Linked DNA regions of Homo sapiens. The protein of the gene in region 1 purifies or fractionates together with the protein of each later gene. This does not show direct contact. Each region holds a gene or a part of one and is shown on either strand. Other genes may lie near its edges. The genes, in order: PCK2, PRCC, ZMYM2, PAG1, BPIFB1, SLC35A1 and GAP43.

Evidence for each region.
Region 2: the proteins of PCK2 (region 1) and PRCC purify together in Homo sapiens (affinity purification with mass spectrometry; one large-scale study listed by BioGRID and IntAct). This does not show direct contact.
Region 3: the proteins of PCK2 (region 1) and ZMYM2 purify together in Homo sapiens (affinity purification with mass spectrometry; 2 studies listed by BioGRID and IntAct, with this or other methods). This does not show direct contact.
Region 4: the proteins of PCK2 (region 1) and PAG1 purify together in Homo sapiens (affinity purification with mass spectrometry; one large-scale study listed by BioGRID and IntAct). This does not show direct contact.
Region 5: the proteins of PCK2 (region 1) and BPIFB1 purify together in Homo sapiens (affinity purification with mass spectrometry; 2 studies listed by BioGRID and IntAct, with this or other methods). This does not show direct contact.
Region 6: the proteins of PCK2 (region 1) and SLC35A1 fractionate together in Homo sapiens (co-fractionation; one large-scale study listed by BioGRID). This does not show direct contact.
Region 7: the proteins of PCK2 (region 1) and GAP43 purify together in Homo sapiens (affinity purification with mass spectrometry; 2 studies listed by BioGRID and IntAct, with this or other methods). This does not show direct contact.

Annotation. Positions count from the first base shown.
Region 1 is NC_000014.9:24,096,941-24,101,258, reverse strand, and holds part of PCK2 (phosphoenolpyruvate carboxykinase [GTP], mitochondrial isoform 1 precursor), read right to left. Parts: coding exon 4,122-4,318; intron 3,057-4,121; coding exon 2,872-3,056; intron 2,785-2,871; coding exon 2,581-2,784; intron 2,211-2,580; coding exon 2,023-2,210; intron 1,702-2,022; coding exon 1,539-1,701; intron 1,265-1,538; coding exon 1,046-1,264; coding exon of another isoform or gene 954-1,045; exon of another isoform or gene 506-953; intron 1-505. UniProt on the Homo sapiens protein: Mitochondrial phosphoenolpyruvate carboxykinase that catalyzes the conversion of oxaloacetate (OAA) to phosphoenolpyruvate (PEP), the rate-limiting step in the metabolic pathway that produces glucose from lactate and other precursors derived from the citric acid cycle.
Region 2 is NC_000001.11:156,766,044-156,770,334, reverse strand, and holds the start of PRCC (proline-rich protein PRCC), read right to left. Parts: upstream 2,801-4,291; 5' UTR 2,564-2,800; coding exon 2,096-2,563; intron 1-2,095. UniProt on the Homo sapiens protein: May regulate cell cycle progression through interaction with MAD2L2.
Region 3 is NC_000013.11:19,993,227-19,996,726, reverse strand, and holds part of ZMYM2 (zinc finger MYM-type protein 2), read right to left. Parts: coding exon 2,808-3,500; intron 1-2,807. UniProt on the Homo sapiens protein: Involved in the negative regulation of transcription.
Region 4 is NC_000008.11:80,979,236-80,983,553, forward strand, and holds part of PAG1 (phosphoprotein associated with glycosphingolipid-enriched microdomains 1), read right to left. Parts: intron 1,260-4,318; coding exon 1,200-1,259; intron 1-1,199. UniProt on the Homo sapiens protein: Negatively regulates TCR (T-cell antigen receptor)-mediated signaling in T-cells and FCER1 (high affinity immunoglobulin epsilon receptor)-mediated signaling in mast cells.
Region 5 is NC_000020.11:33,303,502-33,307,819, reverse strand, and holds part of BPIFB1 (BPI fold-containing family B member 1 precursor), read right to left. Parts: intron 3,863-4,318; coding exon 3,795-3,862; intron 2,975-3,794; coding exon 2,929-2,974; intron 1,819-2,928; coding exon 1,755-1,818; intron 910-1,754; coding exon 833-909; intron 1-832. UniProt on the Homo sapiens protein: May play a role in innate immunity in mouth, nose and lungs. Binds bacterial lipopolysaccharide (LPS) and modulates the cellular responses to LPS.
Region 6 is NC_000006.12:87,500,083-87,504,400, reverse strand, and holds part of SLC35A1 (CMP-sialic acid transporter), read right to left. Parts: intron 3,894-4,318; coding exon 3,734-3,893; intron 3,244-3,733; coding exon 3,091-3,243; intron 1-3,090. UniProt on the Homo sapiens protein: Transports CMP-sialic acid from the cytosol into the Golgi apparatus, functioning as an antiporter that exchanges CMP-sialic acid for CMP. Binds both CMP-sialic acid and free CMP, but has higher affinity for free CMP.
Region 7 is NC_000003.12:115,621,694-115,626,680, reverse strand, and holds the start of GAP43 (neuromodulin), read right to left. Parts: upstream 3,172-4,987; 5' UTR 2,992-3,171; coding exon 2,962-2,991; intron 1-2,961. UniProt on the Homo sapiens protein: This protein is associated with nerve growth. It is a major component of the motile 'growth cones' that form the tips of elongating axons. Plays a role in axonal and dendritic filopodia induction.

The DNA.
Region 1 (4,318 bases):
TTCTGGGAATTGAAGCTGGGGACAAGATGCCCTAGTTATGCCCCCAAATCTGGAGATGATGAAAGGGTTGGGGAACTAGCCTGTGGGGAAAGATGAAAGTTTCTTGGATTTCTCAGTTGGGTGGGAAGGCTGAGGGGGGCTTAATGATGGTGTTAGTAAAAATAAAGGGTGATTAGATGAAGCAAGGAGGGTGACTGCTAGGCCAGCCTGGCAAACCTGAATATAGGCTTCAGTGACTACAAGGCCAGCCTCCCCTCCCATGCTCTTCTTTGCCCCTGCCTCTTGGTGTCTGGACTGCCTGACTGCAGAAGGCCATGGAAAGAATACTGAAGGTCCAGAGTGCAGGGCTGAGGGAGAGGTGGGACTCCCAGGCGCCCAGGGTAATGACAGGATTCAGAAACTAGCTTCTGGGAAAGACTCAAGCACTGACCTGATTTTGTTTGTAGGAAGGATTGGGGTGAATGCTTTGGAGGGACAGGGGAAGGGTGACGGTAACAATACTGACCTTTAGACAGTGGTTATTATACAGGGGACAGTGGGAGCCAAGTGGCAGGAGGAGAGTTGGAGCAGAGGAGGCAGCTTTCCTCTTTTCCTAATGGGCCAAACTTTATGGATAGTGCTTGGAGCCCAATACCTTCTGTAAGAATGTTCAAAAGTCCTTCCTTTTCCTTTCATTAAAAAAAAATCCAGCCTGTATTTATTATTGAGAATTTACTGTGTATTTGTCAGTGTGATAAACCCTTTTTATGCACTATTTAATCCTCCAACAATCTCATGAGATAGGTACTATCACAACTACCCTCATTCAACTGATGTGGAAACTAAAGCTTAGGGAAGTTGAGCAACTTAGCCAGATCACAAAACCAGTGACTGGTGGAGTTGGGACATGAACTGAGATTTTGCCTGGGACTGGAAACTGCAAACGTTCATGACTTCTGTGCCTCCTGGCAGTCCTAGAAGATGGTTGGAGGTTGTGGAGAAAGCTTTTCCACCATTAAGGTGCTGAGGCCTGGAGGCTGTGCCACACCTTCCCCACCGCACATACCAGGTTTCCAGGGTTTGCCCAGCCAGGAGGTCACAGTAACACCAGGTGGAAGAGGCTGGTCAATGCCCTCCCAGTACACGCCACCATCACTGGTCTCAGCCACATTGGTAAAAATAGTGTTACTCTGGATTGTAGCCATGGCGTTGGGATTGGTGGTGGCAGAGGTACCAGGGGCAACCCCAAAGAAGCCGTTCTCAGGGTTGATGGCCCGGAGTCGACCTGTTAGGAGAAGTGAAAGAAAGGAAGGACCAAACAAGGAAAACTTGAGATGTAAGACCAAAGAAGGTCCTGCTCCACCCACCCCTGTCCTGAGATGGACCCAAGATCTGATGAGGAAAGGCTGTCTCTCGGGTGGCTGGGCTGCCAGAGGAATGGAGCAGGGTTGGGTGTTCAGGAAACTTTCTCACTGACAAAGTCATTGTGAACACTAGAGAGGAGACCCCGAGGCTCTGACAAGAGCCAGAACCAAGAGTATGATCTGAGAGTCCCTCACCTTCACTGTCAAACCTCATCCAAGCAATATCATCCCCCACACACTCCACTTTCCAGCCTGGCAGTGCAGGCCGCATCATAGCCAGGTTGGTCTTGCCACAGGCACTAGGGAAGGCGGCTGCCACATAGCGCTTCTTCCCTGCAGGGCTGGTGATGCCCAGGATCTGTGCATTGGGGAGAGAGGGAATAAGAAAGAGGTCACCAAAAGTCAGGGCATGGTCTGCATGGGGAAGGGCAGCTAGGGTCTAATAGGGAGGACCAATGTTTATTAACTATATAAGTGATTGCCCTGCCATCAGGCCTGGGTTAGTGGCAGGGGAAACCTCAACATTCAGCAGCCTGAGGCCAAAGCTTTGGGCCTTCAAGTAGAGTCCCCGCCCACCAGCCTGGCACCTGGCAGGAGGGAGGTGAGGCTGAGGCAGACTGGCCAGGCCCCACCCCTGCCCTGTCCCCGGCAGCTGCCCTGCTTCTCACCAGGCCCTCACCAGCATGTGCTCTGCCAGCCAGCCCTCATCCCGGGCCAGCCGAGAGGCGATGCGTAGGGCAAAGCACTTCTTGCCCAGCAGGGAGTTGCCACCATAGCCGCTGCCGAAGGAGATGATCTCCCGCTGGTCGGGCACGTGGCCAATCAGGGTTTTCTCTGGGTTGCACGGCCACTGGCTCACTGGCTCCCCTGGGGACAATGGGGTCATGGGGCTGCTGGCAGCAGCATCAGGAACTGGGGTGTCGGGGCCAGAGGGATCAGGGATTGGCAGGAGAGACACTTGGGAGCAGTAGCAGCACCAAGAGGTGGCTGAAGCCCCCCACCTCATAATAACCATCAGCTTCCATGCCCCTATTCTTGGACACGGATTTTTCTCAACCTAGTGCAAAGTGCTCTGCAAACACAGCCTTATCCCTCTGCTGGGACTGCTGCTCTGGATCTTGGGAATTAGGTTGCCAGAGAGGACAGGTTCTTAGGGTCTGTGGAGAGGTAGGATTTGGGATTTCCTCTGAGTACAAGAAGGCCTCTGTGTTCCCCTTGGGGCAGAGCAGGTGCTTACCTTGTCCTGTCAGGGGCTGGCCCACGGAGTGCAGACACTTGACAAAGTCACCATCTCCCAGGGCCTGAAGCACAGGTGTCCCCAGTCGGGTCATAATACGCATGCTTGCCACCACATAGGCTGAGTCAGTGAGCTGCACCCCGATGCGGGACAGCGGGGAGCCCACAGGACCCATGCTGAATGGAAGCACATACATGGTGCGGCCTGTGGAGGAAGGCATCCCCTGGATGAAGGGTTCCAAACCTGTTCACATCTTCCGTGCCCTTGCCACTGTGCCCCTGCCCTGGTTACCCTGCATGCAGCCTGGAAACCTCTCATCCACAGCTCGCTGGAAATCAGCTGGGGACATCCAGTTGCCCAGCTGCCCACGGGCCCCACCAGGCGGGAGTGGTACCGTGTCCCGCTGAGAAGGAGTTACAATCACCGTCTTGCTCTCTACTCGTGCCACATCCTTGGGGTCTGTGCGGGCCAGCCAGCTGGGGGAGAGGGGATTGTCAGGAAGATGGTGGCCAGCAGGTTTCCCTTGTCCCTAGACCCACTTTTTCAAGTCCAACTTTGACTCCAGGTCTTCTGTTGGCCTTATGTTTCCCCACCCAATCACATCTCAGTCCCTTCCTCCAGGCTTTGTCCCATCTAAGGGGTGTTCCCCAAGGTCCCAGCCCTCTGGGGGTCTCTGCCCCTGGCAAAAGCTCCCTGAACTGGTGAGGAAAAAAAAAAAAAGCAAAGGATCTTATTTATATCAGCTTCTTCATTTAACATTAAAATAAAATACAAACTACAAACTAGGCTGGGCGCAGTGGCTCATGCCTGTAATCCCAGCACTTTGGGAGGCTGAGGTGGGTGGATCACTTGAGGTTAGGAGTTTGAGACCAACCTGGCCAACATGGTGAAACCCTGTCTCTACTAAAAATACAAAAATCAGCTGGGTGTGGTGGCGCATGCTTGTAATCCCAGCTACTCCGGAGGCTGAGGCAGGAGAATTGCTTGAGACAATTCCCCGGAGGCAGAGGTTGTTGTGAGCTGAAATCATGCCACTGCACTCCAGCCTGGGTGATACAGTGAGACTCCATCTCAAAAAAAAAAAAAAATCCCAGTTTCTTTCTTTTTTTTTTTTGAGACAGAGTTTCGCTCTTATTGCCCAGGCTGGAGTGCAATGACGCGATCTTGGCTCACTGCAACCTCCGCCTCTTGGGTTTAAGTGATTCTCCTGCCTCACCCTCCCAAGTAGCTGGGATTACAGGCATGCGCTGCCATGCTGGGCTAATTTTTGTATTTTTTTTTTTTTTTTTCAGTAGAGACGGGGTTTCTCCATGTTGGTCAGGCTGGTCCCAAACTCCCGACACCTGGTGATCCACCCGCCTTGGCCTCTCAAAGTGCTGGGATTATAGGCGTAAGCAAATCCCAGTTTCTGGGTCTGTTTACCCCAAAGCTCTCATTCTTGTTCATTCCATTGGGATGTTCTAGTTAAGTTGATTTTGCCTTGGTGAACCCAAAGTGGCCTCAGTGCACCTATCCTGCAGGTTGTGGAGCCCAAGGCTTACCAGTTATTGTACTTGGGGAGCTTTCGGATGAGGCCCTGCTGCTCCAGCAGGGTCAGTGTGGCAGTATTCTCAGCCTCAGTTCCATCACAGATGTGGATGCCCTCTGGTTGGCACAGGCGGGCACTGTGCTCTACAAAATCTCGAATGCCAGTGGGAAGCTGGCCCAGATCTCCACTAAGCACTCGCAGGGTCTGGAT
Region 2 (4,291 bases), on another chromosome or scaffold:
TACCTTTCTGCAGGAATTATGTGTTCCGAGAACCAAAAGACCAACTTGAACAGAACAAAAATGGGAAACTCAACCAGCAAGGGCTAGGACTTTAATTAGCCATGTTACTGTTCACCTCAGAAATTTAGTGAATGCTTACAAAGGAGGGAGTGTTAGTCTTCAGAGTTTTCTGCCACCTCAGCCAACCCAAATGGCAGATTCTACGGCCTCTCCCAACTTTCTATAATGCTACCTTCACAGAGCTAGAAATGAGCTTTCCATGTCCATGTAGACTGTTTTTATTTGTCTCATTCAGGGATCTTTCCTTGTTCCAGGTTAAATCAAAGCCAAAGTAAGTTTCCATGGAGCAATAAAAGGCTTTTTTTTTTTGGATCCTAGACTTAGGATGAGAGACTCTCAGGTGTGAAAGAAGGGGGAAATAAAATGGAAGAAAGTGGCCGGGTGCTGCGGCTCACGCCTGTAATCCCAGCACTTTGGGAGGCTGAGGCGGGTGGATCACGAGGTCAGGAGATCGAGACCATCCTGGCTAACATGGTGAAACCCCGTCTCTACTAAAAACACAAAAAAATTAGCCAGGCGTGGCGGCGGGCGCCTGTAGTCCCAGCTACTCGAGAGGCTGAGGCAGGAGAATGGCGTGAACCCGGGAGGCGGAGCTTGCAGTGAGCAGAGATCGTGCCACTGCACTGCAGCCTGGGCTACAGAGGGAGACTCCGTCTCAAAAAAAATAAAAATAAAAAAAATTTAAAAAAAAAAGGAAGAAAGTTTCAAACAAGATTGGGAGGGAAACTCTGGAAACTCCTTCCATGAAAAATCCATATTGGAGTTCTTTCACTCACAAAATATCCATGGGAGTATTCAGTATGTGCCAGGCACTGTTTTAAGTACTAGGGTTATAGCAGTGAATTTTTTTTTTAATCCCTGCCTTCATGGAGTTTATATACTAGTGGGAGGACAGATGATGTTAAGTGCAATGGAGAAAAATAAAACAAAGAGCAATGGGGAGGAGGAGGTGATAGGAGGTTGCAATTTAAATACATAGTAGGCTAGGGAAGTCCTCACCGAAAACAGGCCTTTTAGGCCAAGTGAGGTGAGGGAGAGAACATTAGGATATCTGAGAGAAGAAATTTAAGGAACAGCAAGTTCAACGAATGGAAATGGCTCCTAGGCAGAGCTGGGAGTCTGAAGAAAAGCAAGGGCAATAAATTTCTCTCCGGTAAGTAATTCTAAGCAGTTCCTGCTCCAAGGCTTAATCTCTCCTTTATCTCCAAAGCCCTCACTCCAGGAGCCTTGTATTTTTCCACTGTCACATATAGAAACAGGTAAGACTCGCTGCCTCTTCTAGAAACAGTACCCAAGCATCCTAACTCACCTAGCTTTGACCATAGCTAAATGATGAATATGAGGCACAGATCTGAGGTTCAGAGAGACTGAACCTTAATCTTAATCTTCACTCTGCCCTGTTACCAGGTAAAATCGTGCATGCTGGACACCTGTTTCTCATCTGTAAAACAATAGTATGTTACCTCCCAGAGCTCTGTAATAATTGAAAGAAAGGACCAATGAACGGCAAATGATCTGCACTAAACAAATATTCGATTTCTCCTCTAACTCCCCTCAAAAATAGAAACCAAGATTGCTATCATTTTCCTCCAGGCCTGATGCTTTTGAGTTCAGAGGCAAGGAAAAGATTTGTCCCAGATGTTCGGCAAAGGTTCAGGAGCCCTGTCTCCTGTCATTCTTCAGGTGCCAGATTTCATCCTGTTCTCAGTAGGAGGAAAGGGGAAAAAGCCGGACTGAAGTGAAGATGCAAAGAAGGGGGAGCGGATCCAAGTGTCCCTAGGCCTGTCAGTACCAGGTGATGATGACATGTGGCCTTCTGCAGGCAAGCCCAGCTTCAGGAAACCCACATGGGCAAACACCCAAACTCCCCCAAGTTGACCAACTTCAGCTCAATTAATCGCATTATAAGAGGATTCCAGTGGCCTTGAATCCACGGATGCGTTTGTAGGAAGGAGTTCTGAAATCTCCACATGTCCCTCCTACAGCCGACTCAAACCCGATGGACAGTTTGGGGGTGCCTTCCCCGGATACTCACATCTCCCTTATGCAACTCCGGCGCCGCGATCTTCACGGGCTCTTTCCTCTTCTTTGGCTTGGGAAGCCCCAGCGGGGGACCGGCACCGCCAATTGGAGGGGGCAGATTGAGGCCAGGGCCTCGGGGCGAGGGCAACCCCAATCCCAGTCCCTCCCCAACTCCCGCCGCTTCAGCCGGGCTCACGCCTGGAGGTGGGGGGAAGCCTCCCAGGCCGAAGGGCAAGGGGGGAGGAGGCTGAAGCCTGGGGTCTCCGGTGGGTGGGGGAAGCAACAGCGGCGGGGGAAAGGCTGGCGCCAGCATCTGAGGGGGCGGAGGCAGCAAGGCCGGACCCTTGGGCGCAGGGAGAGAAGCGAACAAGCCCCCTAAAGCGGGCCCAGATGTAGGAGCCACCGCCTCCTCTTCCTCCGGCTCGGGCTCAGCCTCATCCGGCTCGCTCTCATCGCTGCTGGCGTAAGCAACCAGCGACATGGCGCCTCCCGCGTTTCGGGCGCCCTTGCCGGCAGATGAGGCCTACTTGAGACCGGGGATGCCCGGAGGCCTAGTAGGCCCCGCCACCTGGCGGGGCGGGGAACCGAAAAGTCCGCCTGCTCCGTACTCTAGGGCTAGCCCCGGCAGAAACTCATGGCTACGGCTGATTTCCACCGAACAAGGCGTACCTCTTCACTTAAGCTCCTAGTCCCGGGCAACTACACACAGCTAATGGCCGCCGAGTCACTCCGCCTCCTCCTTGCCTCACCAATACAGGAACTACAACTTCCAGAGAACACTTTGGACACAGCCCGGTTCTTTGCCGCAGGGATCTCAGCGCAAGGCACGGCGGGAGTTGGAGTCCGAGGAAGGATTTAGGGGCGAGCAAAGGGAGACAGGAGAGAAACCCGCCTCTGACGCAGGGACACCTGGGGTGAGTAGTTTTTTTCGTCGCCTAACAATTCCGAGGTGACTACAAGCCCCACCGGTCACCACGGCAGTCACTGAGACGGACAGGAGAGCATTTCGGTACTTGAAGTTCCCTAGGGTAGCCCCTTGGCCACTAAGATTTCTGGGAGATATGATGCTCTTAGAAACTGCAAGTGATGTCGGGAACGAAAGGGAGTCTGGGAAGCTGGCGGATTGAGGAAAATTGCTTAAAGGCAAAGTGATCTGTAAATGAACTGGTGAAGCTTCCCAGTCGGCTGGGACTGGGAATTAGAATAAAACATCCCAAAAAGAGCAAGGGCCCAAGGGACCCGTACGAAATTGGGCTGCAAGCCAGAAAGAAGCGAGGCTGCAGGTCTAATAATAAGCATCTAAGAGTTGAAATAAATGTGACGTAAAAGGGAGGAGGTGATCTCCCTCACCAGGATCGGGGTGCACATCCAGGAACACACCTTACCCTGGAGCCTGGGGCCTGGCCTCCCTCTGCAGCAACCAGTGAGACAAAGATGGGCAAGGCTCTGACAATCCGGGCCAGGTACTTGAGGTTAATCCCTTCTCAGCTCAGTGGGGTAAAGGGCGACCGTTCTGAGGAATCACTTGAGTCCGTCCTACCTGGCTGTGCCTCCCACCTATCCATTTGCAGATGTCCTTTACATTCCTTTACGTCTGTGAGTGCTGCTTCTTATGGCTTTGTATGTGACTTTCTTACATCTGTCTCTGTAAGTGCCCTTCCTTTCCATCCATGTTTATAGGAGTCCTTGTCCAGCCCATTTATGTCTGCTTGTGATGATCTGCTGTGCGCCAGTCCTTCCCTGTCCGCTTGTGATTTTGTATCCTTTTCTTGTTTACCCATCTCTGCCCCCTTCCTGTCTGCCTGTGACTGAGTGCCCTCTACTTGTCTGCCCTGTATGTGTGTGTCCTTTACATGCTAATTCATCTCTGTGTGGGCACCACCTCCCTGTTCCCAGATTGCAGAAAATTCTGTTGAGCGAAGCCAGAGAAAAGGCTGTTGAGGTTTTGGGAGGAGGCTGAAGAGAAAATTGGAAAGGTTGATGAGGAGGGACAATGATGACCACAATGCAGAGAGACAGTGAAAGGCCCAAGCTTGAATCCTCTATCAGACGAGCCTGATATGGGGCACCTCCTCCCCAACCTCTCCACCCTTCAGAGACAAACTCCATGCTGCCTTCTCCATGAAGGCTCCTTAGAGCAATCTGTGCTCAAACTTTAATGTGCATAAGCATCACTAGGAAAGCTTCTGAAAAATATAAATTCCTGAAA
Region 3 (3,500 bases), on another chromosome or scaffold:
TTTGTTTTTTGAGACAGAGTCTCAGTCTGTCGCCCAGGCTGGAGTGCAGTGGTGCAATCTCTGCTCACTGCAACCTCCGCCTCCCAGGTTCAACAAATTATCGTGCCTCAGCCTCCCGAGCAGCTGGCATGCACCACCATGCCCCACTAATTTTTGTATTTTAGTTGAGATGGGGTTTCACCATGTTGGCCAGGCTGGTCTCAAACTCCTGACCTCAGATGATCCGTCCACCTTGACCTCCCAAAATGCTGAGATTACAGGCTTGAGCCACCGCAACCAGCCCTGGCTAGTTTTTTTTTTATCTTTAGTAGAGACAAGGTCTTGCTCTGTTGCCCAGAGGCTGGTCTGAAACTCCTGAGCTCAAGTGATCCTCCTGCCTTGGTCTCCCAAAGTGCTGGGATGACAGGCATGAGCCACCATGCTTGGCACCAGCTCTTGTTTTAAATTATAGATTTTCTAAGCAGTCTTCAATAATCAGACATTACTCGACAAATAAGAAAAATAACTAGCAATTCATATAGCATTCTACATTGCCTAGATTTTAGTTACTTCACATTATTCTCCACAATCCCTAGGATAATGAGCCTAAAATGATGACAGAATGGGTCAGAGAGAGGCATGTGAGAGAGAAACGCCGATAGACACACACACACAGAGGAATTGGGGGAGAGGTTAAAGAGAGAGAGAGACATCCACAGACATGTCATGAAAAAGTCACAGAGTTTGTTTTGTTTTTGAGACAGGGTCTCACTTTGTCACCCAGGCTGGAATACAGTGGTGCAATCCTGGCTCACTGCAACCTCTGCCTATGGGGCTCAAGGAATCCTCCCACCTCAGCCCCCCAAGTAGCTGGGACCACAGGTGTGCACCACTATGCCTAGCTAACTTTTCATATTTTCAGTATTTTGTATTTTTTCACCACGTTGTCCAGGCTGGCACAGAGTTCTTATCACTTCCATATTTTAAAGTTTTCACAGAACAAGGCTGCTCACAGAAAACAATTTCAAATAGTCAAGAAAACTATCAACCTTCAAAAAAAAAGGTGGGGGGCTGGGTACAGTGGCTCACACCTGTAATCCCAGAACTTTGAGAGGCCAAGGCAGATGGATCACTTGAGGCCACGAGTTCAAGACCAATCTGGCCAACATGGTGAAACCCCGTCTCTACTAAAAATACAAAAATTAGCTGGGTATGGTGGCACACATTTATAATTCCAGCTACTAGGGAGGCAGAGGCTGCAGTCAGCCGAGATTGCACCACTGCACTCCAGCCTGGGCGATACAGCAAGACTCTGTCAATAAACAAATAAATAAGAAAAAAAAGTATTGCTTATTTATGCCCTTGAAAAATAAAAATAATTTTTAAAAATTTTTTAGTAGTAAAATGCTAACTAAAAGCTAAAGATACGTGGTCAAAAATAAACACGGCATTATCGAGTTGTAGACATTAAATATATACAGCCTTTTGCATGTCAATCATAACTTTAAAGTAGTTTTAGAAAAGAAAAAAAGGATGATATGTTTGGCTTTCTTCAAATGTGAGAAAAATAAAACCTTAGCCAACTCTTAATAAAAAATAAAATGGCTGGGCATGGTGGCTCATACCTAGAATCCCAGTACTTTAGGAGGCCAAGGCAGAAGGAATGTTTGAGCCCAGGAGTATAAGACCAGCCTGGGCAACACAGTAAGACTCCGTCTCTACAAATAATTTTTTTTTTTTTTTTTAATTTAGCCAGGCATGGTGGCTCACACCTGTGGTCCCAGCTACTCTGGAGGCTGCGATGGAAGGATCACCTGAGCTCAAGAAGTCGAGGTTGCAGTGAGCTGAGATTGTGCCACTCTACTCCACTCTGGGCGACAGAGAGAGACCCTGTCCCAAAAAATTAACTAATTAATTAAATTAAATAAGCACAGGGAAAGTAGAAATAAATCTAAATGCGGCCAGGTGCAGTGACTCACGCCTGTAATCCCAGCATTTTGGGAGGCTGAGGTGGGCAGATCACCTGAGGTCAGGAGTTTGAGACCAGCCTGGCCTGGCCAACATGATAAAACCCCATACAAAATACAAAAATTAGCCATGCGTGGTGGTGGACGCCTATAATCCCAGCTGCTTGAAAGGCTGAGGGAGGAGAATCGCTTGAACACAGGAGGCGGAGATTGCAGTGAGCCAAGATTGCGCCACTGCACTCCAGCCTGGGTGACAGAGCAAGACTCCATCTCAAAAAAAAATCTAAATGCAACTACTGTACAATATTACACTGTTCTTTAAGTGTGCTATTATATTAATCTTTTGGTTCTCTAATTTATATACTAAAACACTAGTAAAAATTCTATTAGCAAAAAGTAATGCATGACAAACAAGATATTAAATTATCACACTTCATTCTTTTGTTTGTTTTGCTTTTTAAATTTAGAGATGGCGTCTCGCTATGTGGCCTAGACTGGTCTCGAACTCCTGGGCTCAAGCAATCCACCCACCTTGGCCTCCCAAAGTGCTGGGATTACAGGTGTGAGCCGCCGTGCCCGGCCAAATTATCAGACTTTGGTGATGAATGTAAAGAGTATTTTTTTCTTAAATCCTTTAAATATAAAACTACTTTATGATTAACTTTTTAGTAATCCACAGAAAAATACTATACATGGTTTTACAATTCTTATTAAAATACCAAACTTAAGATAAAATTCAATATAATTCACATATTTCACATGATGAAACTAAACAAGGTAATACCAGTTACTACAATGAAAAAAGCAGCAGCCAAAAGTTTAAATTCATTTACATGAAGTAGAGTATCTCTTACTGCTTACCAGGATTATGATGAGTTGCAGATTCTCCATTCTGAAAAACGTCTCCTGCCACATTCATTCTACCAGGATTAAAAGGTCCTACTCCAGTCTTGGTCTGTGAAGTTAAAGATGGGGTGTATGTTTGTATATTAACACCAAAATTACTTGACTGCAGTCCGTTAGAGACATCTCCCAAGTTGGTATTCTGCAGTGATGTTACATGTGTAATCATTAAGTTCATATCTCGCCCGTCAGTATTTTCTAATTGGCCATCATTCACAGAGCTTACACCTGTTTCTAAAGTTGTAACATTAGCAATCTGAATTTCAGAGTCTGGTTCTGTGGTGATACCACTATTACCCATTCCTGCATTTACCTTACTTCTTGAAAAACTGGAAGTGGAGAAATCCACATCATTGGTTCTGTTTTTAGTCTCAGGAGGTCTTCGTTCAATAAAATTGGAGGAATTTTTCTCTTGCCCTTGATTTGTTTCCATGTCCTCTTCATCATCAATGACAATTGTCTCACTTACACTTCCCTTCTGAGATGCCAACTCTTTTGAGGAAGGAGTAATTTTGGAATCATTTCCTTGTAGTTCTTCATTTTTTGATGATGTAAATGTTATGGTTCTTTGATCAGCTACCACTGGTACAGAAGGTGGGGGAGGTTGTACAGGTTCGATAAAAACAACATCATCATCATCTTCCACTGACG
Region 4 (4,318 bases), on another chromosome or scaffold:
TCCTATATATTTTACCTTCTTGTCCCAGATGGGATCACTTTGGCTGCAGAGTAGAAAACAGAGTGGAGGGAGGCCAAGGAGCTGCCAGGGATCAGCAGGAGGGGACTGCTCTGGCCTAGGGAGGGGCGGCCGCAGTGGGCTTGAGGGAGGTGGGTACACAAAGAAAACAGTTTGGAGGTGCAACTGATGGGTCTTGGCAATTGACTGTGTTGGAGGACAGTGAGGAAAAGGAAGTATCGAGATGACCCCTAGGTTTTGGTCTGTGCAACCAGATAGACAGATGGCAGGTCCATTCTGGAGGTAGAAACATGGACGAGGGTGGGCAATATCACCTAGGGAAAGCATTTTTGCTCTTTGAACATTCAACGTGGGTGTCTATGTCCATATTCTAATGCTTTACTCAGAGTCCTATAGGAAGTGATGTACCTGCATATGTACTTTGCTCTTGTACATGTACACAATTTACTCTGCTAGGAATTCCAGATAGAAGCTATATACAGCTAGATCAATTAAGGTGTTTAGCTCTCTGAGCATAGCTCAACATTTATATATATACATATGAAATATGTATATATACACATATTTCATATTATATGTATAATACTGGCTTTAACAATTTTAATGCTTCATTGAAAATCTAACTCGTGAATTTTGCACCCTGGTGCTTGGGAATATGCGATCTGCTCTTGTTGGCTGCTATGTCTGACCCTAGCTCCTGCCTGGAACTGTACTTACTGAAGTTAATCTGCTCTCAGCATCCAAATTTCCCCACGGAGACTTCCTCTTTCTGTCTCCCAGGCTGGAGCAAATTCCCTACACTCACCTGTTCTAATTTCCTGAATTTTCCAACCCATGATTCATTTCCTTCTGATGTGGTCTTCCTGACTGCTGACTGCTCCCACGCTGGAATTTTTCTCTTCTCACTCTTCTCCCCTGCCCTCTCTATTTTTCCTGACCCTGCTTTCCTGCTCAGTTTCTTTTCCTGAGCTGACTACTTGTCCTGCCATCCTTCTTGTCTGGCCTGCCCGTCAGTCTCTCCAAGCCATTATAAAACCAGCATCCCAAGTCTTCATCTCCAAACATAGGCATAGGAGAATATTTCAGCTCTTTCAAAGGGTAACATTACAGTGCATTTATTCAAGGGGGGAAGGTCTATTCTTTACTACAGTTTTCCCTTTTTAAAAAGAAACAAAACTTACCTCTTCTTCTGTGAGAGTGGGGTCTTCTTCCCGAGACTTGTATGACAATGAGCTAAATCTCTGTCAGAACAAACACAAGCCAAGGAAAGTAATTCAGCGTTAACAATCTAACCTTTCTTTTGCACATGTTTCCTCATAATCTGTCTAGCAACGTTTTCAAATGATTTTTATGGAACCACGAAGAAATTATGGGAAGAGAAACACTTATGCAATCTATTACCACATGTATGATGTTCGGGGATATCTAGTAGTATTATCCTTAGAGAAATTTCCTCTAATTTTGTATTTGCATCTGTAGGTACAAAGAAGCCAAAATAATTATTTAGACTACTGTTTCAATTCCTAATTGTCACTGAAGGATTGATCATCCATGGAGGATTAATATTTAAAAACATGGTGTTTCTTTATCAAATGCCTGAATTTTATACTTCTACAGTTTGCTGGCGTCATCAGAAAGATCCTTAAGTCATTTGGAAACTTCAAAGCTAATGGAGAAACTGACTCACATTTTGTGTCTTGCCCCCTGCCTGATTTCTGAAGGATTTTGGCTCTTGGTTTACTGATTCTCTAACACATCCCTTGTCTTAATTTTTGGTGACCTCAACAAACGTGTACCCTTCTAAATCCCGCCCTTCAGTTCCTTGACTTTCCCTTCCCCCACTGATTTTATGCTCTATCTGTGTCCCCTCTCCATGTCCACCCCCGGCCTCAGCACCCTCATGGCTGCACCCCAGGCCTTTCTAAACCACAGCCTCTCCACCAGCCCAAGTCCTTGCAACCCCTTTCAGACCAGCGCTCGTTGTCAAAGCTCACTCCTTCTGTAACCCAGTTCCAATGCTCCTTCAACACCATTGGGACCCATTCATGCTTTCAAAGTCTGCCCTTCTCCTTGGTGTCCTGTACTGCTTTACTAAGCTTAAGCTCCATAGTCAACTGCCAATCATACGTGAACTCAACCCTCTAGTGAGCCCTTAAAGCCGCTCCGTATCATCCGATGCTTCCCCAGTATACTCAGTCTCTGCTCAACTCACAGTCTACTTTGCATCTTCTCCTCTTCTCCCCAGACTTCCAACACCTCCTCACCTATCTTCACTCTGAGCAGATGATCTTGCTTCCTAGTTGGCTAAGAAAACTGAAGGAATCAGAAGAAATTTGTATCAACTCTTAGCCCCACCCTCAGCCTCTGCGTTAATCTATTTTCTTTCCTCCCTGTCAAATGGATTTTCCATGTTCCTCCTTCAGGTGATCCCCTCCTTCCTACACACTAGACCCTGTCTCCACATACCTATGTGTGAATACTGAGCCAGGAATTCTCCCAGTGTGGGATCATTCCCAGCCACATGCAAACATGCTGTTGTTTCTCTCATTCTAAAACCAAAACAAACCTAGTCCTACTCCGAAATTCTACCTACTCATTATCTCACTTCCTTTTTTTTTTTTTTTTTTTTTTTGACAGCGTCTCACTCTGCCATTCAGGCTGGGATGCAGTGGCGTGATCTTGGCTCACTGCAGCCTTGACCTCCCAGGCTCAAGCCATTGTCCCACCTCAGCCTCCCAAGTAGCTGGGACTACAGGTGCATACCACCATGCCCAGTTAATTTTTGTATTTTTTGTAGAGACGGGGTGCTGCTACATTGCCCAGGCTGGTTTCAAACACCTGGTTTCAAGTGATCCACCCACCTCGGCCTCCCAAAGTGTTACGATTACAGGCATGAGTCACTGCGCCCAGCCTGTCTCACTTCTTTATAGCAAAATCTTTTAAAGAGTGGTCTAAAAAGTCAACCGAACAATTTTTCTCTTCCTATTCTCTTTCTAATCCATTTCAGTCATGTTTCTGCCTCTACCATTCCACAGAGACTGCTCTTGTCAAGGGCACCAATGAGACTCGCCTTCCCTGACCTACCCGCTGCATTTGGCAGAGCGGCCCGCCACTCCTTCCTTCCTGGACACGTTCTTCACTGCCTTCCAGGACTCCACAACTTTCCTGTTTTTGTTTCCTACTTTGGTCTCTTCTGCTGGTTCCTTTTCCAGATCTCTATTCTTGGAGCTCTTCCAGGCTCTATTTACACTCACCTATCCTGTGACCTCACCCAATCTCATGACTTTTAAAACCACATTCTGTGGATGACTCCCACATCAGCAAATCCAGCCCTGGCCTTTCCTCTTTACCCGGCTCATCAATCCAGCTACCATCTGATAAGCTCTACTTGGAAGTCCAATCGGTATCTCAAGTTGAACGTACCCAACACTGACTGCTGGTTCTCCCCCCAAAACCTGCTCTGCCTGTATCCTCTTCATTTCAGTTAATGGCAATTCAATCTTTCCCACATGTTGGGCCCAGCCTCGTACTCATCACTGCCTCTTCTTTATCTCACTAAGCGTAGGATCCATCCGCAAATCTCTTGGCTCTGGCTTAGCTTTTCTCATCACCTCTGCTGCCTCTTCCCTGATCCAGGCCACCGCCATTTCTAATCTGGTTTATTAGAGTCACTACCCAATTGTTCTCCTCACTTCTACCCTTTATTTCAAAACTGGAGTCAGAGGGATCCTTTGAAAACATAGGCTAGGTTGTGCCATTCTGCTGCTCGGGACTCTAGTGACATTATTAGTGTTCAGACTATAAGCCAAGGCCATCCAGGATCGAGCTCTGGTTCTCTTTCTCCTCACTGCTGTCCTTGCTCTTCCCTCTCCACCCACAGCAGTCCCCTCCTCTTCCCTTAAAAAGCCAGTTGCAAGCTCTAGCTTCAGGGGCCTCACACTGGGCATCCCCTCTGCTTCACGTGCTCTTTCCACAAAAGCACAAACCTCACCCCCTTGGATCCTTTAACTCAAACGTCACCTTCATAGCTGGGCAGACCCTGACCACTCTATCCAAAACTGTACTCCCCACCTGTTTTCTCAGTTCCCCTTATTCGGTTCTATTTTTTTCTCTTATAAACTTTAAACTTTATGTCTGTCTCTTCCCACTAAGATGTAAGTTCCACAGGGCAGGGATTTTGTTCATGTACATGTTTTGTTTCCAGGACTAGAAGACTGTGTGGCACACAGCAGGTGCTTATTAAGATCTTTTGTTAAATAAATGAATGAATATTAAATACTTCAAACCCTCAACTCACTTA
Region 5 (4,318 bases), on another chromosome or scaffold:
GCCTCAGCCTTCCGAGTAGCTGGGATTACAGGTACCCGCCATCACGCCCAGCTAATTTTTGTATTTTTAGTAGAGACTGGGTTTTGCCATGTCGGCCAGGCTGGTCTCGAACTCTTGACCTCAGGTGATCTGCCCACCTTGGCCTCCCAAAGTGCTGGGATTATAGGCACAAGCCACTGAGCCCAGCCTCAGGTATTTCTTTATAGCAGTGTGAGAACGGCCTAATACGCTGTCCCTCTGACGGGACACTTCTCCCAGCTACCCACAGGGCTCACCCCTCACCTCCTCAGGCATTGGCTCAAATGTTACCTCCTCAGAGAGGCCCTCCCTGGCCACCCCATCTGAAACAGCACCCCCTTCCCTGACATCACTCTCTCCTCCTGAGCCTGCTTTATTTTTCTTCTCAGCCTTCCTCCACTCAGCCTGATGTTACATCTTTAGGGCTTGTGTATCTGCCTCTTCTGCTAAAAGGTAGGCTTGAAAAAGATGGGAGTGTTTTCCATTTGTTCATTTCGGTGGCCTCAAGCACTCAGAAGCATGGCTTGCCTATAGAAGACCCTCGAAAAATATTTAGTGAATTACTGAATGAATGAATGAATGAATGAATGACAAGGGGGTGGAAAAAGTGTACTGACCCCAGGCTAGGAGGGTTCCATCCTCAGCACAGCCAACCTTCTCACTTGCAGATGAGGAGGTGAGGCCCTGAGAGGGGAAGGGACTTGCCCAGGGTCACCTGTAGGCTGGGGTTGGAGTGCAGGCCCCACCTCCCAGCCAGGGCTCTCAGTGGCTGTGCCCTCCCTGGGGCAGGATGTTTAGGGCCACACCCACTCACCTTGGTCAGTGAGGACTCAGCTGCCTCGAATCCCAAGGCCTTCACCAATGACACTGGGACCCCAGATCTTAATTTGCCTGAAATAACAAATGTGGTCAGAAACTGATGGGCCTGGGGTGAGACTGGGCAGCCAGGGGCAGGCTCAGGGTTCCTGAAGGGGAGCCCCGGCCTGGCAGGCCTGATCAGACAGCCCCCTCTGCCTCTGCTCGCCTGTTCTCTGGCCCCAGCATTGACCCAGCCTCGTCTACCCTCCCTTTGCCTCTGGCACTGGCTTCTGGCCCCTCACAAAATGCAGTCCTCACATTCTCTTACGCTCTTGCTCAAGAACCATCAGGGGCTCCCATTATCCCCAGCAGAGGTTTCTATACTTTGAGATTTTTCCAGTCTAATAAAATAAAGAAATTAAAAAGGTGGAACTGTATAGGTTACAAACCCTTCCCACCCCTCATTCAACCTGGGGCTGAATTAGAGTGTTGGGCACTGACTGTGCCAGGCACCTCCTGATTTGTGCCTCTGAAGAAGGTACTTCTACGTCCCCATTTTACAGATGGAGAAACTGAGGCTCAGAAGGATTGTGCAGCTTGACCAAGGCCAGGCACTAGCAAGAGGGGGAACAGGGTCTGCTGAGGCGCCTCCAGTTGTCTCTTACACCTCTGTCATTGCTCTCATTGTCTGCTTATGCCTCTGTCTCCTTCCAGCCCTGCAAGTCTGGCCCACTGCTTGGTTCATCTTTACGAGCCCAGCCTCTGGCACTAGCAAAGGAATTGGGCTGAGAAGGTTCTTGGGAGGAGGCAGATTTTGAAGTAGGCTCTGAGGGATGGCTGGGAGATGAATGAAAGGGGCCCCATTCATGGAGATGAGGGCAGGGGAAGTAAAGCCAAGCCCTGGGGAGAGAGGGGGCACAGATGGCAGAGGTATGCACCATTCTGGTTCGGCAGCAGGATGGAGTGGATGATCTCAGTGATGATGTTTTTCAGAACATCAGGCTGTGAGAGAGAGAAGGGGCACTGTCACCCTGGTTGAGCATCTGAAGTTCCCCCCCATCATTCTTCGTGGGTGTGGCTCCTCCCCATGGGTGAGGTGGCTGGTGGAGATGTAGGAATTCCAGGTCCCCTGCTGATCAGAGCTGTGGGGGCTCCCAGGGACCAGATGGGCTGGGTTGGGGCATGAACTCAGCCGCCCCTGGGGCCTGGTAGATGGGGGGATTGGGGTGCATTGGAGGATGCCCCATCCTCAGGGGCCCCACCACTCTGTTGCAGCTGAATTTGCCCTGAGGGAATTTTGCCCTGCATTGCCTGAACTTCTGACTTCTGGAGGGAAGCCAGAAGTCCTGATTTGCATGTGGAACTCTCCGTGTTTTAAAATATTAGTCACCGGGCATGGTGGCTCATGCCTGTAATCCCAGCACTTTGGGAGGCCAAGGCGGGCAGATCATGAGGTCAGGAGATCGAGACCATCTTGGCTAACATGGTGAAACCCTGTCTCTACTAAAAGTACAAAAAATTAGCCGGGCGTGGTGGTGGGCGCCTGTAGTCCCAGCTACTCAGGAGGCTGAGGCAGGAGAATTGCTTGAACCCGGGAGATGGAGGTTGCAGTGAGCCAAGATCACACCACTGCTCTCCAGCCTGGGCGACAGAGCGAGACTCCATCTCAAAAAAAAAAAAAAAAAAAGTCAAAAATAGTGAAAAACAAATCATAAAAACCAGAGAAAACACGCCAGACTGAGGTATTGGGGTTCGGTCTGAATCCCAGCAGGAAAGGGCTGTCTAGGGGCACTGAGGCGCGTCTACGTGTGCAGAATGAGATTGTGAGTCAAGGGCACTTGTGTTCTAATTCAGGATCAAAACTTCACTGAAAGAAAGTGTGTATCTGTGAGTGTATTTGTGTGTGCGTGTGTGTGTTCTCAGCTGTGTCTGACACGTGGTGGCTTCTCTGTAAACACTCGAGGGAAGTTGGACTTTGGTGGAGACCGGCCAGCCCCCCATGGTGCTTCTGTGGGGACCTTGTTTGAAGCAAATCCTGGGCAATATCTGTTTTGAGAGTGGACCATTCCAGGCCACCCCCTGTGCCCTCAGGCACCACCTGTTAACACTTACTTGGAACCAGCCAATCCCAGAGTTCATCAGCTGGATCCGATCAGAGCTGCAATGGAAGATGCCTGTGAGAGCGGCCCCTGAAGTCCCACTCATTCACCATCCACTCATTCAACAGCGATTTATTGAGCACCTATTATGTGCCAGGCACAGTGCGGGCTCCAGTGAACCACATGAAGCCCTTGCGTCGTGGAGCTTGCATTCTAATGGCAGGGGTGGGGTGGGGGGCATAGAGGGGGCACAGAAAACAAATAGCAGTCCAGTGAGCAGAAAAATCAACCTCAGGAGTCAGGGCTGTGGTGGACAAGGAGGCCCAAGCTCCTTCAAAGGGCGCCCCAATTCCTGGCTCGACAGTTTGTTGCTATGTAGGATTGTGGGCACAGGGCAGCCAGATAGTCTGATTTGATATGTGCACAACTCATTTATATTAAACAGCCCAGCCCTATGTGGGCTGATCAAAAGAGCCCTGGGCCTGACTTGTCCCCAGAGGCTCCAGCTGGCAGCCCCTGCACTCACTCTGGGGCCACAGGAAAGTGGCGGGGAGGGAGAACAGGCAGGGTGCAGGAGGCAGCTGGAGCCCTGCACTTCTGTGCCGGGTGACTGTCACTGCCACGGCCTGGGAGGTGTCCAGAGTGGGCTGGCCGCGGCTAGGGTTTGCCTGTGCCGTGGCTGCTGCAAGGCCTACTTCATTTTCCTCCCCATTCCCTCACATGCAGTCCTTGTCAGCAGGAGCATCCGGAAGGACCTCCCTGCCTACCCTGGAGCCGCCTTCACCTGACAGCCACAAAGTCGGTGTTTAAAGAAACCCATGGTTACCAGGCGGGACTCATTTCCATCAGCAGAATCTTCATGATGATTTGTGTGTTTACCTGATGTTATTCAAGTTGAGTATAAGTTGGTCACCTTTGGTGTAAAACTGAGCTTCCGAGCTGGCTTCCTGCAACAAGAGAAGCCCAGGCCCCATTGTTCTCAAGAGGATCCGAGTGTGGAATTAGGGGTTATGCAGGGAGGCTCTGGGGTCTGAATCTCAGTTCCTGGCTCTGGGACCTTGGCAAAGGGTTTGACCTCTCTGGGCCTCACCTGCCTCATCTGTTAAATGAGATAGTACTTGCCTCCACTCCCCATTTAACAGATGACAGTCTAGGCTTGCTGTGGGGAATGATAATGATGACGATGACGACGACGAAAGCAGCCACTATTCATAGAGCCCTCACTCCCTTACCCTAGTGTGTAGGTGGCCCAGCTCAGGAAGTTTTCATATTCCATTTTTCTGGACACACTGATTGGCTCAAGAATGGGCAACTGACTCAGGCTCATTCAGTGAGAGTCAGCCCTGAGATGTTTGCTGGAACTATTGGAAAGATAGGTTCTTCCTGCGGTGATTGCCAAGCTG
Region 6 (4,318 bases), on another chromosome or scaffold:
AAGTACAGATCACCAAGAGGAATCTAACCAGGAATTTAAGAATAGTATCAAGAAATCGAAAACTCAGAATAAGTGGAGGCTTGCAAAAAATCCTGTAAGGCATTAAAGAAAGCTTTTTTTTTTTTTTTTCTTTTTGAGACAGGATCTTGTGGTATAATCATGGTTCACTACAGCCTCAACCTCCTCGGCTCAAGTGATCCTCCCACCTCAGCTTCCCAAGTAGCTGGGACTACAGGCATGCATCACCACATCTAGCTAAGTTTTAAATTTTTTTGTAGAGACATGGTCTCACTATATTACCCAGGCTGGTCTTGAACTCCTGGGCTCAAGCAATTCTCCCCGCCTAGACTACCTAGCTAAATAAATTTAAAAGACTATCAAGAAAAGTAGGTGAGTTAGTGTATATAAAGCATTTAGATAATGCTAGTATTTAGTGCATTATAAATGATTGCAGCTGTTATTGTTACATTGATTACCAGCAAAATGTTAGAACAGATTTAGAGATGACTTGTACTTAAAAAGCTTAATGGTCATCAGTGGAAAATAGTGTGACTTCACCAAGTGTGAAACATACCAGATTTCCTTACTGAAAGGACTCCTAATGTTAAGTGATGAGGGGAATTCCATAGAGATAATGTTTGGCAAAAAATGTGACAGACTTGCATATTATTGTTATTATTATTATTATTGAAACAGAGTCTCGCACTATCACTCGAGCTGGTGTGCAGTGGCGCGATCTCGGCTCACTGCAACCTCTGCCTCCCAGGTTCAAGCGATTCTCCTGCCTCAGCCTCCTGAGTAGCTAGGATTACAGGCGCCTGCCACCACGCCCAGCTAAGTTTTTGTATTTTTAGTACAGACGGGGTTTCACCATGTTAGCCAGGCTGGTCTCGAACTCCTCACCTGGTGATCTGCGACCAGCCACATAATATTTTTATAGACAACACAGAACTGTAGTGAGGATAAAGGTACAATCCGTAAGTGTGTGAATGCTCATACAGAAAAATGGTAGTTAATTGAACAAAATCAAGCTAGGCCATCAACCAATACCAACTTGCCAGGCATATAGATAAGCCACGTTAGAAACAGATCCTCCAGCCGTAGTCAAGTCTTCAGTTGACTGCAGCCCTAGCCAGTATCTTGACTGCAACCTCAAGCCAGAACCAGCTAGCTAAGGCACCCTCAAATTCCTGACCCATAAAAACTATGAGAGATGATATGTTCAGTAAGCAAGAAAAAGATCAAGCTAGAGAGAATTCTAAAGGTACAGCCACAGAACTCTGGTCCTGTTCTACCTAAAATTTTCATTAAAGACCCAGAAGGCATATTTTTTTTGACTCTGGAAAGCGTAATACCCAAAGGAGAAGCTAATAATGGGTAAGAACTGGAAATAACTCAAGGGGCTGAGCAATGACCCAAAGCTAACAAGAAGAGCTTAATAAATACAAACTCAACCTGCATTCTGGTTTAGAATAAGCCAGAGTTTGAGTTCTAGTGTCAATGAGAGTCTATTCCAGTCCTGACACTTGGAACCCACTTAACCAGTAGTGGAGGAGTGCATGGCAGTGCAGACAGATTGAGGGAACAGTGGGGTGAGAGGGATACAAGATACATTTGAGACAAACTATTTGGGTGACACAGTTACATGTAGTGGTTTATGATCAATTGTAAAATAGATACTTTGCCTGCCCCCCAGAAATTAACAGTCATGTACCACATAATGACATTTCAGTCCATGATGAACCACATATAAAACAGCGGTCCTGTAAGATAAAACTATATTTGTGCCTTTTCTATGTTTAGGTACGCTAAACTTACCACTGTGTTACAACTCGCTACAGTATTCAGCACAGTAACATGCTGCAGAAGTTTGTAGCCTAGGAACAATAGGCTATATACTGTACAGCCTAGATGTGTAGTAAGTAGTCTATACCATCTAGATTTGTGTAAGTATACTCCATGATGTTTGCACAACAGTGAAATCACCTAATGATGCATCTCTCAGAACCCTGAACTTACATTCTTTGTTAAGCGATGCATGACTGTATAACAAGTCTCCGGTATTCAGAACAAAGGGGTAATTACCAAACTGTGCCTCGTATTACTTAGACAACATTGGGAGACAGTGGGGTTTTAGGATATATTGAGAAATAATGACAGATGAATGCATCTAGGAGAAAAATATAAGGAAAAGTGTAGGGGCAGAAGGCAGGGATCAGGAAGTCTGTCTAGAAACCATATTATAGAAAGAAACAGTAGGGTTTTAATTGGGGAAGGAGGGGACCTGGAGGGTGGGGATATGATACTGTTCACAAGCACTGTACATCCCAGCCGCCTTCCATTCCTAAGAGAACCATAGTCTGTTTGCTAAAAGTTAGAGTAAATATTCAACTGTAGGAAACTCCTGACCTTCACAAAACTATTCACTGGCATCCCATTTCCTGTTTCTCTTTGGGGAAATAACTGATTGAGGCATACAATGTAAGAAAAAAAATCATGTATGTATCTTAGCGTTAACTCTTTAAAAATCTGTTATGTACCTTCACATTAACTCTTAAAAACTAAAGATAATTATCAATTATCAGTAAGAACACTCCTTCCCTTGTCATCCTGATCACTGACAGTAGGGAGATGTGCCAGAGACTGACAGTTGAGAGAGAAGATGAAAACTAGATGCAGAAAAACCTTGCCCAGTGTTTCTGAGATGTTTGAAAGAGGTCTAGAAGTTCTAAACATATACAGTATGGAAACTGGCACAGTTGTGGTCACAAGTTAGCTATTAACTAATTTAGGACAAGTTCCTTCACCTCTTTGGGGACTGTCATCCATAAAATGGAGGGGATGGAACACATTATTTCTAAGGTATGTTCCATCTGTAACATATTTTATGCATATTCTCCTCTGAGAAACAACCAATAAGTATTATTATCCCTAATAATATGCTAAAGAAAAAAGGCCTATCTATAAGGCAAAAGTTATTTTAAATCAAAGAAATGTAGTCATGCTGCATGCATCAATGTAACTGAACAGTATAAGACTTAAGGAAGTTTTCTATTTATGGGAAGTTATGGTGTGCATTTTGTTTCTTACCACCACTTTTGTAGCTTGGGCTGGTTTCCACTGTACAAGCGTAACTCCAGCACACAGCATAAAAACTGAAACCCACTGTAATTTGCTGAGTGTCCGGTTTAACATTAAAACAGTGCATAAAGCAGTACACGGAATCTTCAACTGGTAGGTCACCTAAAAAAAAGAGAATGAATTAATAAATTCAGTTAATGTTAGTCTCTGATACAAATATATTATTTCTGGTATCATTGATAAAATTATCAATAAAAAATATTTGATAATGGCCGGGCACGGTGGCTCACACCTGTAATCCCAGAACTTTGGGAGGCCGAGGCGGGTGGTGGATCACGAGGTCTGGAGATCAAGACCATCATGGCCAACATAGTGAAACCTCATCTCTACTAAAAATACAAAAAATTAGCTGGGTGTGGTGGCATGTGCCTATAGTCCCAGCTACGCGGGAGGCTGAGGCAGGAGAATCGCTTGAACCTGGGCGGCGGAGATTGCAGTGAGCTGAGATCACGTCACTGCACTCCAGCCTAGACGAAAGAGCGAGACTCCATCTCAAAAAAAAAAAAAAAATTGATAATATGATAAAGAGTTAATAAAAACTCTTTTTACCATAAAAGATTCTGTGCTTTTCATTATCATTAACTCCACTTACCTGGTACACTGCTGCATCCAGATTGCTAAGAGCTAGGAAAGCCATGTTGTTCTGAACAGCATACACTAACGATGGCACACTTAACTTCAACAGTTCCTTGGGGCTCCCCAAGACATTTTCTCTTAAAGATGCTTTGAATCTACCCAGACTACCAGTTTCTCTTTGAAAACAAAAGGGGGAGATGAGAGGGTGGTAAGGAAGAAAATTAAAGAGTATTATTTTAATAAGACTTCTTCAAACACAGGACAAGCATACTATGCTTGCTGTAATTTAGCAAACTAATAATTTCTAACTAGTTTTAGATTAAAAGAAACATACCAATAATGTATCCTCTTTAAAAAATTATAGTTCTGTTTGGGAAAATATGACAACAACTAGATTTACCACTATCTCTAGTCAAAGCTCTGAGAGATTCTGAGTATATTGAATAATGAGATTAGGAAAACTGTTGATATTACCTATAAAAAAATTCATCCCCTGCTACTTTAACTATTTCATCAAGTTCACCCTGATTACTTTTTAATTGATCAGTTTGCATATCCATTTTTATTTTTATATTTATTTTTGAGATGGAGTCTTGTTGTG
Region 7 (4,987 bases), on another chromosome or scaffold:
AAACACCTCATAGTTTTCTTGCTTTGTAGACATAAATCACACCTTGCCAAGTTTTTAATCATCTGCAATACACATGGCAATTAAGCTATTTAAAGTAAGCCCCAAGATATTTGAAAATCATAAGGCAATACAATATTAGGGATTATTTTATTTTATTCCTCCTTTGCCCACTCCTTTACCATATTCTCATCTCTACCCCACTCTCATTCTCTTCTTCCTGCTATAATAATCTATAGTGATAACTAATGGCTAATAGAGATCATTTATGCTTTCTTCTCACCCACTGGCAATGTATTCCAACTTAGAAATCCAAGGTTGCTTCTTTATGCCGCTCAAGTGGAAGAGGAAGGAAGTGCAAGCCCTTCAGCCCCCCTCCCACGTTTCTGCTGGATTTTATGGGTGTGGCAGAGCTTAGACCTTTGCAGGTTTTTGCCCTTGTTTTATTCCCTGTTAAGTACTACGATGATGAATAGATGCCAGCAGAAGGATGGGCACCACTGGATTTTGTCATAAATGATACAGAATTTCATCCACAAGCAGGCAACCTGCGTGAGACTTAAGTACTCATGCTACATAAATGCCAGTCAGTGTAGTGTGAGCCCACGCCCTGAATACACCATTTCCTTTAGTCTGATTGAATGGTATCCTAAATACTGGCTAATGTGAATGATACACAACAGTGGTTTATAAGAGACATGACCATTTCACACAGAAGTACACATTTATAAAATGCATGAGCAAAGTAGGACAATTTCTATACCTTTAATTTTCTCTTGAATATAAATGATGCTAAAACACAGAGAGGCATGTGGAAACCACTTACACATGCAACTGTAGCATATGAAGTATGTGGATGCTGTATACATTTACATGCGAATTTCTACAACTCTAAACACAATTTCAGCTTCATCACTTTGCACATCAGAGTGAATGCTTGGGGCTGTTGGTGAGATAGAGCCCCAGGGAAGGCAGCTGTCTTCATTTTGGGAAGGGAATTCCTTTAGCCCTAATTCCTTTTCTAAAAATCATACATGATTTCCTTTATTAAAGGAGATGTATGTATACTTGCATATGTACACATAGGGTGGGAACAAATTATGAACCTGAATATTTTTCTTTCCAAAATTAAAGCTTTTTAAGTGGATGGCTTTGGCTTACTTAGTGCTCCACCTTCCTAAATGTTATTTCCCCAGCTCACCAGTGAAATAACCTCAGGACTTTTCTTTGACAGTGTTCTTAACCCAGACACCTGTATTTATTACATTTATATATTAAAATGAAGGAGGACACAGAGAGAAAATGCCCTGGTTTGATAAAATGAGCCAATGGAAGCATCAATCTCTGTAACCATAGGGCAGTTTCAGGAGATGCTGCAAATACCGCCCCCAACTCAATCCCCCACTATCCGACTTTTTCCCCCAAATAGCCCCACACAATCCAGGATGTCTGCTTATTTATTTATTTATTTATTTATGCCAAATCTCTACTCCCACTGCTCTGACATTCTGCTTCAGTCTCCCATCCTCTTCCTGCTCCTTCTCCTTCATCCTCACTCCCCACCCTTCCTTCCAGGGCGCTGGCTAAATGTGCTAAGCTGGCAGGCTGTTTCTTCTCCACTCTCTTCCACCCCCTTCGGATTCAGGGAGTGTATTACAAATTGCCCAATTTCCAATACCTGCACTGGAAATTATACCCAAATTCCATCTCTTGCACCCCACCCCTAAGGCAATCAGTCTGCGAAGGGCTTCTTTGACCAAGATTGCCCCCACCACACCCCCACCCCCACCACAGTCAAGCATACGCACACACTCACCCGTATCCCACACCCATTTTTCTCTTTAACCTTTGCCAAAATCACTCAAATGCATTCCAACAAATGTTTGAAAGCTTCTTTTGGAGACTGCCATGGCATGGTCGGTTGCTGCGGAATACCACACTCGTCATTCCTTCCCACTCTCACCCCAATCAAGTTTCTAAAATGTCTTTCAAGAAATAAGCGAGCAATTGGAAATGGCTGTAAAACCTGGGCAGTGGGGGAGGGAAGGAGGGGCTCTGATTCTTGCTAATCTTGGATGTGTCCCTCTTCCTGATGAAAATGAGTCACCATACTTATTATCCAGGATGTTAGCCTGTCTCTGGTCACTGACAATCCCAGGAAAGAAGCAAGGGAAGGGGATAAGAGAAAAGACCTGGTTTCCAACAGGTAATACCCGGCTGTCTTTCCCATCCCATCGGAGCTCCTAGGGGCGTGGTCCACCCTCTCCTCCGACCAGCTGGTGCACAATCGGCTGCTGATCTTAGGAAGGGGATTTTCTCCTTCTGCATGGCCAATTTCTCCCCCAGCCCCAGTTGTCTTAGCTTCTCTTAAAAAAAAAAAAAATCTATCAAATCACAGTTTCATTCATTCATTGAAAAATAAATACTAAATAAATAAGACCTGCACGTTTTTCCATAAATACCTGCGCCCCTTCGAAGCTCATGCATGCACGAAATAAGGCATCTTCCGCAGCACATGTGAGAAAATTGTATGACAGAGAGGCAATACTCAGTTCTGAATATTATTTCCTCAACCCTGCTTTTTTGCAAATAATATAAAGAAATGCCTCCCCATCTTGTAGGTAGAGCCCACATCATCTCCCCCACACCCCTTTCTACGTCCACACCCTCAAGACCAGAGACCTCAAATGCTGAGCATTCACTAATAAGAAAAAAAAAAATTATTTCTAGCCAAACAGGCATGTTTTTTCTACCCTCACCCTAATTAGTAGCAGCATTCCAAAACCAGAGCATGAAAGACAGAAAAGAATAAAAGCTGGGATGCAACCATCAGTTACCATATGCTAAGGAAGCGCGAGCACCACGGCCAGAGCAGAAGCAGTAAAAAAATTGTTTGCCTTTACGGGGAAATACTGTACTCGGGTTATTTCACAACAGCAAGAAGTAAAAAATCTTTAGCTCTACCTGTTTGGTTCTTCTCATACAGCACAGCATGGTTGTCTCGTCCCTTGCCTTCTTCCTGCCTTCTCTCCTTTCCTTCTCTCTCTTTCTTATTCCCCCCCTCTCCACCTCTTTTCTGCTCGCTTGCTCACTCGCTCTCTCGCGCTAGCGCGCTCTCTCTCCCTCCCTCCCTCTCTCTCCCTCACACACACCAGGGCAGTTAGCAGCAACTGTAAGGTCCACAGCTATTGCTCATCGCACATGCTCGCTCCCTCTCTCTAGCGCTCTCTCTCTCTCTCCCTCTCTCTCTGGTGCTCTCTCTCCGCTGTCCTCTCTTCCCTCTCTTCTCCTTTTTTCTCCTTCCCCCCAATATCTATCTATCTGTCTTTTTCTTCCCTCTCTCTCCGTCTCTTTCTCGGAATTGTTCTCTAGCCTTCAGTGACTAATCACTTCCCCCAGCCCCTACCCCCATTCTAGACAGTCGCCCCCTCCCAGTCCCCTGCCAGCCTCATGAATATTTAAACACCTCCAATCTGGACCCAATTACCCACCGACTTTTCCACTGCATTGAGAGGGTGATGGGGTGGGGGCAGAGAAGGATATTCCAGTCAATCCAGGAGATATGATAGAGCATGTTTTAGGGAAGAGGGGCTTGAGGAATCCTTGTATTTCTTTAAGAACTCTTTTCCTCTTTTCCTAGTATTATAAAAGCAAAGAACAGCTATTTCTAAAGAGGAATTGTAGTCAGTCCTATACAATATAAGTCATATCTGCCATTACATTTTATGCATAGTTAATAATTGTGGAGGTTAATTTCCCTCAAAAAATGAAATAACATGTAAATATCATACACTGTTTATATATTCTTCTCAGTATACATATAACCTGAAATAAATACAAAGCTTAGATATGCACAAGCATATTTTATATATGTTCCAATATCCTGGAAAAAAATCCACATAAATATATTGCATTTTAAACATTCTAAGCACTTGAGCTCAGAAATAATAAACAATGTTTAAGAATTGGCATCCATATCTAAAATCACATGGTAGTTTTTTGTTTTTTCCTTAATGCACATATACCTGTTTGTAAATTGTGGTTTCTTCTAATTTTACTGAAAAAGCTGAGCACATTCAAACAGGTCTGTGTAATATTGACGGTGATCAAAATGATATTTTACAATTTGGGCATGAGAGATTAAAGTGAATTCATCTGAGATGAGAAGAAACGATAAGTCATGAAGCCTACTTCTTGAATTCCTTCTATGGCCTTTCATAATTTTGGGGGAGGAACATGTGACTCTTAAAGTGTGTATAGCACAATTTTTAGTTATTTATTGTTGAATGAGTTTGAGTGTGTTACTGAAGCTCTTTGCACCTAATTTTCTCATCTTTAAAATGGAGATAATAATGCCAATCTTGACAACATGTTTTGAGGACTAAATGATATAACGCATGCAAAGCACAACAGTCTCTCTGAGTGTATAATAGCTTTACTCCAGAGACTGTACTTTTCTGAAATTCGGGTGACATTTGCAAGTGAATATCTCAAAGAAGTTTTCAAACTATTTCTTGTTGTTCATTAGTGATGACAAGTACCCCTAATTAAACAGCTCATATTCTTCATAGTCCCTCCTAGACCTCCTAGACATAAACCTAGCTAATAAGTGGCAACTAGGCAGCTTATTGTTAGGCATATTTCAGGATCACTGAGCTCAATAAGTGCTTAGTACATTTTAACATAATTTAAGGTATATCTATTTCAAAATGGACTATCTCAGACAGGTACCTGGGAACGATGGTGATGATGATACCCAGGAGGTGATATTTAAAATTAGCCTTAATTATTCCTCAGGAGTCTTCCTGAGAGTGGCCTGCTTCAGATCCGCTGATTTGGTCTTTCATTCTTCTCAGTTTGCTTCCTAGTTTTCATATTTATGATTAAAAAACAGAATTAGTTTCTGAGTTTAATAATTTTTTAATGTTACAAGGAGCCCAGCCGCTTTCAGAACAGCCTTCCGTGATTTTAAGTGATAAAAGAGGACAAA